Regions from separate parts of the Homo sapiens genome. Here region 2 is reported to be linked to region 1. Evidence: microRNA targets listed by miRTarBase, many of them from high-throughput screens and not tested one by one. Region 1 holds a microRNA gene; the other region holds the end of a gene's coding sequence.

Region 1 (3,394 bases):
GGGTGCTTATTCAGGGTATTCTCAATTTTAGGACGAAAGCAGAAAGGCTGCCTCATGCAAACTGTCCCTACTCCCACCCAGGGGCCAAAGGACTTGAGCCGTCCTCTCATCAGGCACTGAGCGGGCAGAGAAGTGGCACAAGCTCTGCCTCCCTGCCTGGCCCGTGGCCCAGCGTGTTGCTAGGAAGGAATGTGTTTGTGCAGGTGGCGGCAGAGCTGACCTCCAGGGGTCTGGCCCTTGGGTCACCTGCTTGTCCCCCAGGAGGCCTGGCTGGGCCCCCAGCCTTTCACCTGGGTCTTGCATCTTGGAATCCCCCTGCCCCACCAAGAGCAGGCAGTGCCAGCTCCCTGGCCTTTTCCTCAGAGGTGGGGGTGGATCCCTTGGTCCACTTCCTCCCTGACCACTCAGAGCTGGCCTAGCTGCTGTGAGTCAGCCGTTCTCTCCCACCCTGGGAGACAGGGACCTCCGAGGCCGAACACTACCTTGTTTGATGACACAGACTTGTTTGATGACATCTCAACCATGTAAAGTAGGGAGATTTTACACACACCCCCAAAATCCAAATGTCCGGCCTGTCTTAACTATGGCTGATGCATGCTGCTGAGTGCTAAGGGGGCGGACTCTAAGCCTCTATTTTTATTTTATTTTTTTTAGACAGCCTCGCTCTGTCACCCTGGGGTACAGTGATGCTATCATAGCTTACTGCAGCTTCAAACTCCTGGGCTCAGGTGATCTCCCACCTAACCCCCCGGATTACAGCTGGGATTATAAGCGTGCACTGGTGCACTCGGCTGAGTTTTGAAACTTTTTGTAGAGATGGGGTCTTGCTGTGTTGCTCAGGCTGGCCTAGGCCTCTCTTGAAAGATGAGAATTTTGGCGATGCTGGGTGTGCGTTCTCACCTCCTGTCGTCCGAGGAGAGTACGTGGTGGCCGCCTTCTTAAAGGGTTCTTGGGAGCCAAGCCCTGCACAGCCCCTCACCTGCCTTACCTGGCTGTCCCCTGTAATCAGTGGACGTTGTTGCCTATCATTTAGTAATGAGAACCCAGCTGTGTAAACCTCCTAAACCACCACACAGGAATCTGGCTCTTAGCGCACCTTTCCCGAGGTGGGGGTTGCTCACCACAGGACGTTCTGCAAGAAAAGTACTAAACATGCCCTGACGGAAGCTGGAGCCAAAGTCTGTGTCTGTGAATTGTTTCCTGAGAGAGGTTTCTGGGGGTGGGCTGATGTGAGACCAGGGTCTAGGGCCTTGGGAGGGGATGGGTGGCTGGAGGACAGCGCCGGGGAAGGGTTGCTCCCCTGGGATCTGCCCTCATGGGACTGGCACCATGATGGTGTCCCCTCTTCTGGGGTCCGGATAAGCTAGGTAACCGTGGCTTCCTCATGGGGTGCACACCCCCTTCCCCCTATAAGAGCCTTGGCTGCCACAGCTTTCCTGCAAGGCAGATTGGGAGCAGGGGTGGACACAGGTTCTGAGTGTGCCCTGACCACTGGCAGACCCATCTCCACAGGCTGACTTGCCAGAGACCACCCCAAGTGGAAAATTCTGGGGGCTGGGCCAGGGTGGATCTAGGGCTCGGAGGACCTGGAGTATGTACCATCTGGGGGCCCTTTTAAAGAGAGAGAACATAAAATTACATAGACACAGGCAGGTACAGGACTTTGGGAGGGGCTCGTGTAGTGAGGGGTCCTGAGGGTGGGCTGCCGTTGGGTGGGCCCAGGGGGCATCGGGGTGGCCTTGGTTGCACTTGCCCTCTGGGCTTTCCTGAAGAGCTGGGGTTGGCTCTGTCCTGTGGAGGGAGAGGGTGCGGGAGGCTGTCAGCACCAGCCCAGGTTTCTCTCACCTGAAGTCCCAGGTGTGATGGGATGCTTGAACATAGGGGAACCTAAGGCCACAGCCTTAGAAGAAGCCACAGCCACATCAGTCATCCCTGGTGCTGGGCAGGAGGCCTGGGTGTAGGCTGGAGCTGAGGACTGAGGCTCACCTTGCTCCTGACTCTGTGCCCACAGGTAGAACACCTGAAGGAGAAGCTCATTAGCCAGGCCCAGGAAGTGAGCCGACTGCGATCTGAGCTGGTGAGGCCACAAGGCTGTCCTGGGGTAGCGCAGGGCCTGGCCTGCCTTGTGCAGATGGGCCCTGCCAGGGGCAGGGGTGCGACCCTCTCTCTCCTGAGCCCGCATATCCCACCCTGTCTCAGAAACACACCGAGAGCCTTATCCCCACCTCCTAGTACCCTCAGAGGCCTTGTGGCTCCAGGGGGTGGGAGGTTCCTTCTCTGTTGCTGACATTAAACGGGAGTGTGAACCCTGGTATAAATATGTCTCTCCTTGTGACTTTCACACTCAGAATAGGGTGGGGGCAGCAGGGAGAGCAGGCTCTGGGTCACCACCCTTCTCAACTCTGCCCTCCACTGTCTTTCTCTTGGTTTCTCTCTTGAGCTTGTTCCCTCCTCTCTTGCCCTTGCCTTTTTCTTTTTCTTTTTCTCCTTCCCTCTGCCTTTCTCCACACCTCTCCTCTCTTCCCTGCCCTTGTGCCATCTCCGCGGGCCTCTCTTCTTTCCCCCGTCATCTGCCCTCGCCACATGCGCCCCCTCGGCCCTGGCTCTCTGCAGGGGGGCACCGACTTGGAGAAGCACCGGGACCTGCTGATGGTGGAGAATGAGCGACTGAGGCAGGAGATGCGGCGCTGTGAGGCCGAGCTGCAAGAGCTGCGCACAAAGCCAGCAGGTCCCTGCCCAGGTTGTGAGCACAGCCAGGTGAGCAGAATGGCCGTGGTCCCCATGCTGGTCCTGGAGGGCCACCCCAGCTCCTCACAGTGAGCCTGTCCCTTGCACTCATCCAGTGCCTCCCAATGGCTGCAGGAGAGCGCCCAGCTCCGTGACAAGCTGTCCCAGCTGCAGCTGGAGATGGCGGAAAGCAAAGGCATGCTGTCAGAGCTGAACCTAGAGGTGCAGCAGAAGACCGACCGGCTGGCTGAGGTGGAGCTGCGACTCAAGGACTGCCTGGCTGAGAAGGCACAGGAGGAGGAGCGGCTTAGTCGGCGCCTGCGTGACAGCCACGAGACCATTGCCAGCCTGCGGGCCCAGTCCCCACCTGTCAAGGTGAGCCCTGGCCCACCTGATCTGTGCCTCAGCCCAAGGCCCCTGGCACCTGGGGCAGGGCTAGCCCATAAGGGGGGCTTGTCCTGGTGAATAGGTAGGTGTGTGTGGGTGGAAGAATCATTCCAGTTCTGTGCTTGGTCCTGCCCCTTCCCCTTCCTGTATCCAGGGCCAGGCACCGAGTAGGTATCCAACAGCTGAGGTGCCAGGCACAGATGCAGCGCAGCCCCTGGATTCTGCCCTCGTCTTTTTGCCTTTCTTGTCTGTACCCAGGATGGGGCCCCAGCCAGGCTCA
Region 2 (3,394 bases), not on the chromosome of region 1:
GAAATGAACGTAAGCACCTTCCCATCCTCCTGTCACAGTGCCCAGGTTCAATACAAATGCTTCAACAGAACTCATGCCAGCAGCCTACCACAAGGGTGCACCTTAAGCGATTTTTCTAGTGGGAAGCCTGGTTCCATGCTAAGCTCTAAAGTTCTTGAAGACCAGGGACCATGCTTTCATCCCTTCTGGCTCTCTCCTCTGAAGAGAGAGGTCCAGCACAGCCTGTGGCCTGGATCTAGCTAAGTGACAGTGACCCCACCCCGGTGGCCTCATTCACACAGTGCTCCTTCCAACTGAGCTAGCGGCTCACTGCCCAGAGTCAAACCAGTAACAGTAGCTGCAGTGGTCACTTTCTGACTGACAGGCATTTTCCATATTGTCCTCACCCATCCAATAGCTCTGCAGCTTGCAGATGAAAAAAACTGATACTCGGAAAGCATGTGCCTTGCCCAGAGCCTCATAATCAAGAAGTAACAGAGTTAGAATTTGAATCCAGATCCATCTGGTTTCAAAGCTGGGCTCATTTCACCACCCTAGGGCCTGGATGTTCCAGTAACTGCTGGAGAACTGGAAGCTGTTGGTTTTAGAGCCTGAAGCCCAGGAGCACAGTGCCCAGCTCCTCTCTTACTGTTGTGAGGTCCCCGATCTTTCTTTTCTGCTTCTTTCACCTGTCATTCTCCTCTCTAGTGTCTCCCTCCATCTTCTGGCTCCCCTGGGAGCCACAGATAATTGACATGTTGGGATACACATGTCATTTGTGCTTTTGTCTTTTTTCATTATGTGGGAGCAACAAGGAAGAAAAAAAGAAAAGGAAAAATGCTGGTAAAATACAAAGATAGAGACTTGTAAAAAGAAAGCATAATTCTACCTTAGACTTCAATACTTGTGACAATGGATGGCTCTGCTGACCATGCTTAGGGCTGTGGAGAGTGCAGCTATTTGAAGGACAGGAAGTCTGGAAGCCTGGGTTCTCACCTCATACCCCAAGAGACCATAGAATGACATGAAGGTGGCACTCTTGCACACTTTCCCTCACTCAACTGGGATACACATTCTTCAAGGAAGAGGCTAGGTAACTACAGTCTAGAGCTGGGGACAATCTCCATGACAGAGTGGCAAGGGACTAGAGAGAGCAAGAATTCCTCTGCCCTAGGGATGGTTTAACAGCAGTGATAAGGTCCAGAGAAGAGCTGTGAAGGAAAGAGATGATTTCTGGAAAGGGGACAGAGGCCCCCATTTTGCTTACATGGGTTGTAGGAGTGACGTTAGAGCAGAAGAATGCGGACTGAAGAATCTGTTTCTCCCACAGGTTTTTCCCCCGCTTCCTCCTATCCCATCTTCCTATAACATCGGGGCAGCGTCATGGCCAGGTCTACATGTAACTTGGCCCCGTTTCCTCCCCCTCCTCCCCTTACCTCTAGTGAAGCCCCGCTGCTCTTGGAGGATCAAGCAGCTAGCAAGGCACACTTCAATGTGGCTTTTAACCCCTCATTTACTTGATTCATGAGACTCTGTCCCCTTCTTTCCCAAAATCAAATTATTCCCTTCATAGCTCTTCTGGGGACCTCACCGTTACTAAACCTCATCTCACACACTTCCAAGGAAAGAGTGAACAGTGAGTTGTGTGGGACCTACCACAGACAAGAATGTTGGGAAGCCTGGCAACTTCAGAGGTGGCTGGGAGGGTGGTGGCGTGGGCATCCAGATGCTTTTCTAAAGTGGGGACTTGCTTAGTGATGGAAGAGGTTTGAGGAAGGAGAGGGGGAGGCTACAGGAAACCTCAGCATGGCTGAAAGAGGAACTTGGACAGATGTTTGGTTTTCCCCTTCATCCTACCCAGCTTGCATCACACACCAGTTTCATTCTTAGTTCAGTTCTTCTGTGGGGTCTGTCTCTAGTTCCCCTGTGCTAGGGCCCTGAATCAAATAATGAAACTAGTCTCATCCACTCAAGGTTGGATTTTTTTTTTTTTTTTGAGACGGAGTTTCGCTCTTGTTGCCCAGGCTGGAGTGCAATGGCACAATCTTGGCTTGCTGCAACCTCTGCCTCCCAGGTTCAAGTGATTCTCCTGCCTCAGCCTCCCGCATAGCTGGGATTACAGGCGCCCACCACCATGCCTGGCTAATTTTTTGTATTTTCGGTAGAGACTGGGTTTCATCATGTCGGTCAGGCTGGTCTCAAACTTCTGACCTCAGGTGATCCACCCGCCTTGGCCTCCCAAAGTGCTGGGATTACAGGCGTGAGCCACTGCGCCCGACAAGGGTGGATCTTTGAGTCAAGGTTGGGAAGGGTGTGGAAGATGAAGGGAAGAAACACCTCATGTAAGAAAATCCAGGCAGCTCGATCTCAATGAGAGACTGCTAGGAATGAGAAGCCAGTGTCTGGCTGGGGAGATTTTAATTCCACAAATCCTCCTCAGGGCTGGGATAAATTTCACTTCCATGTGCACGGACAGGTGACACTGGCCTCCACATCCCTACAACTAGAGTTGGGCAGCTGAAACTTCACCCTCAAACTGAAGGCCTGGGGTGGGACATAACAGAAAACATCCTCATCCCCCTCCCGCTCTAAGCTTAGAAGCCCACTGTATCCTTGGGAGCAGCAGTGGACTCCCTGTGCCGTCTTGGGGGCGGGCGGTGTGTGGAGTGGTCAGACTGTGTCTTTACCGTGCCTTCTCTCTCTCTGGCTGGGTAAAAACTTCCTGCTACTGCTGCGGGGTCACTTCCTCAAACCTGAGGGGCATACGAGGGGCATATGGAAAGTAGGTGGGGCAATAAGGGTTGTAGTGGGGTCAGGCATCAGCAAGAGCAATGAGTTCATTTTTGTTTTCTTTTTTTGATTGAGGTAAATAAAAAAGCTTTATCCAGCAACACGGAGATAAGAGTCTGTCCAACCCGACAAGTTCCAGACCCCACCCTGCCCTCACATCAGGCTCTTCCGGTACTGACTGTGCGGGGTGGTCTGTCTGAGGTGGGAGTCCGGGGTCTGCAGGTCCATCTGTCTGTACAGGTCTCTCAGCTCCCTGACCTCCTGCAGCACCCTCTTTGCCTGGCTCCAATTCGATGATGCCTCTCCCAGCAGCCGTTCCGTCTCCAGCAGCAGCTGCTCTGACTCAGAATCCGGCGGAGACCGAGGGGGGTCCTTGGCCTTTCGCTTCCCATCTCCCAGTCCCTGAACCTCTGCCAGAAGCTCCTGAGTCTCCTCCAGTTTCCTTGCTACCAGGTCCTGGATCCGGGACAGCTGCCCCGGGTTGGGGAGGGCAGGGGTTGGGGGTTCCTCAGCCCGCAGCTGGAGGGTGCGGGCAGAGGCAGCATCCCGCTGAGATAGGATCTCCTCCAGGGAGGCGCAGCGGCCTTTCTCTGTGGGCGTCAACTTCTTGGGTGCCTGGGGGGTG

Evidence for each region. The annotated mature microRNA hsa-miR-6772-3p reads UUGCUCCUGACUCUGUGCCCACA and lies in region 1 at 1,988-2,010, shown strand. An mRNA with a match to its seed (bases 2 to 7 or 8) in the 3' UTR can be bound and repressed. Matches are read on the target gene's strand: a 7mer-m8 pairs with bases 2 to 8, a 7mer-A1 pairs with bases 2 to 7 and ends in A, and an 8mer does both.
Region 2: the mRNA of PLEKHO1 is a reported target of hsa-miR-6772-3p. The part of its 3' UTR that is shown has no 7-base or 8-base seed match.

Annotation. Positions count from the first base shown.
Region 1 is chr16:57,770,906-57,774,299 of GRCh38, reverse strand. It overlaps MIR6772 (microRNA 6772), which reads left to right and starts at 1,948; the gene lies at 1,948-2,011. It overlaps KIFC3 (kinesin family member C3), which reads left to right. Exons shown (of 20, transcript NM_001130100.2): 4 at 2,012-2,077; 5 at 2,614-2,757; 6 at 2,863-3,102.
Region 2 is chr1:150,159,052-150,162,445 of GRCh38, reverse strand. PLEKHO1 (pleckstrin homology domain containing O1) reads right to left here. Exons shown (of 6, transcript NM_016274.6): 6 at 2,381-3,394. The coding sequence ends at 2,923. LINC02988 (long intergenic non-protein coding RNA 2988) reads right to left here and starts at 1,718. Exons shown (of 4, transcript NR_135098.1): 1 at 1,636-1,718. RefSeq lists silencers at 311-380, 969-1,038, 2,739-2,788 and enhancers at 1,649-1,958, 3,089-3,394.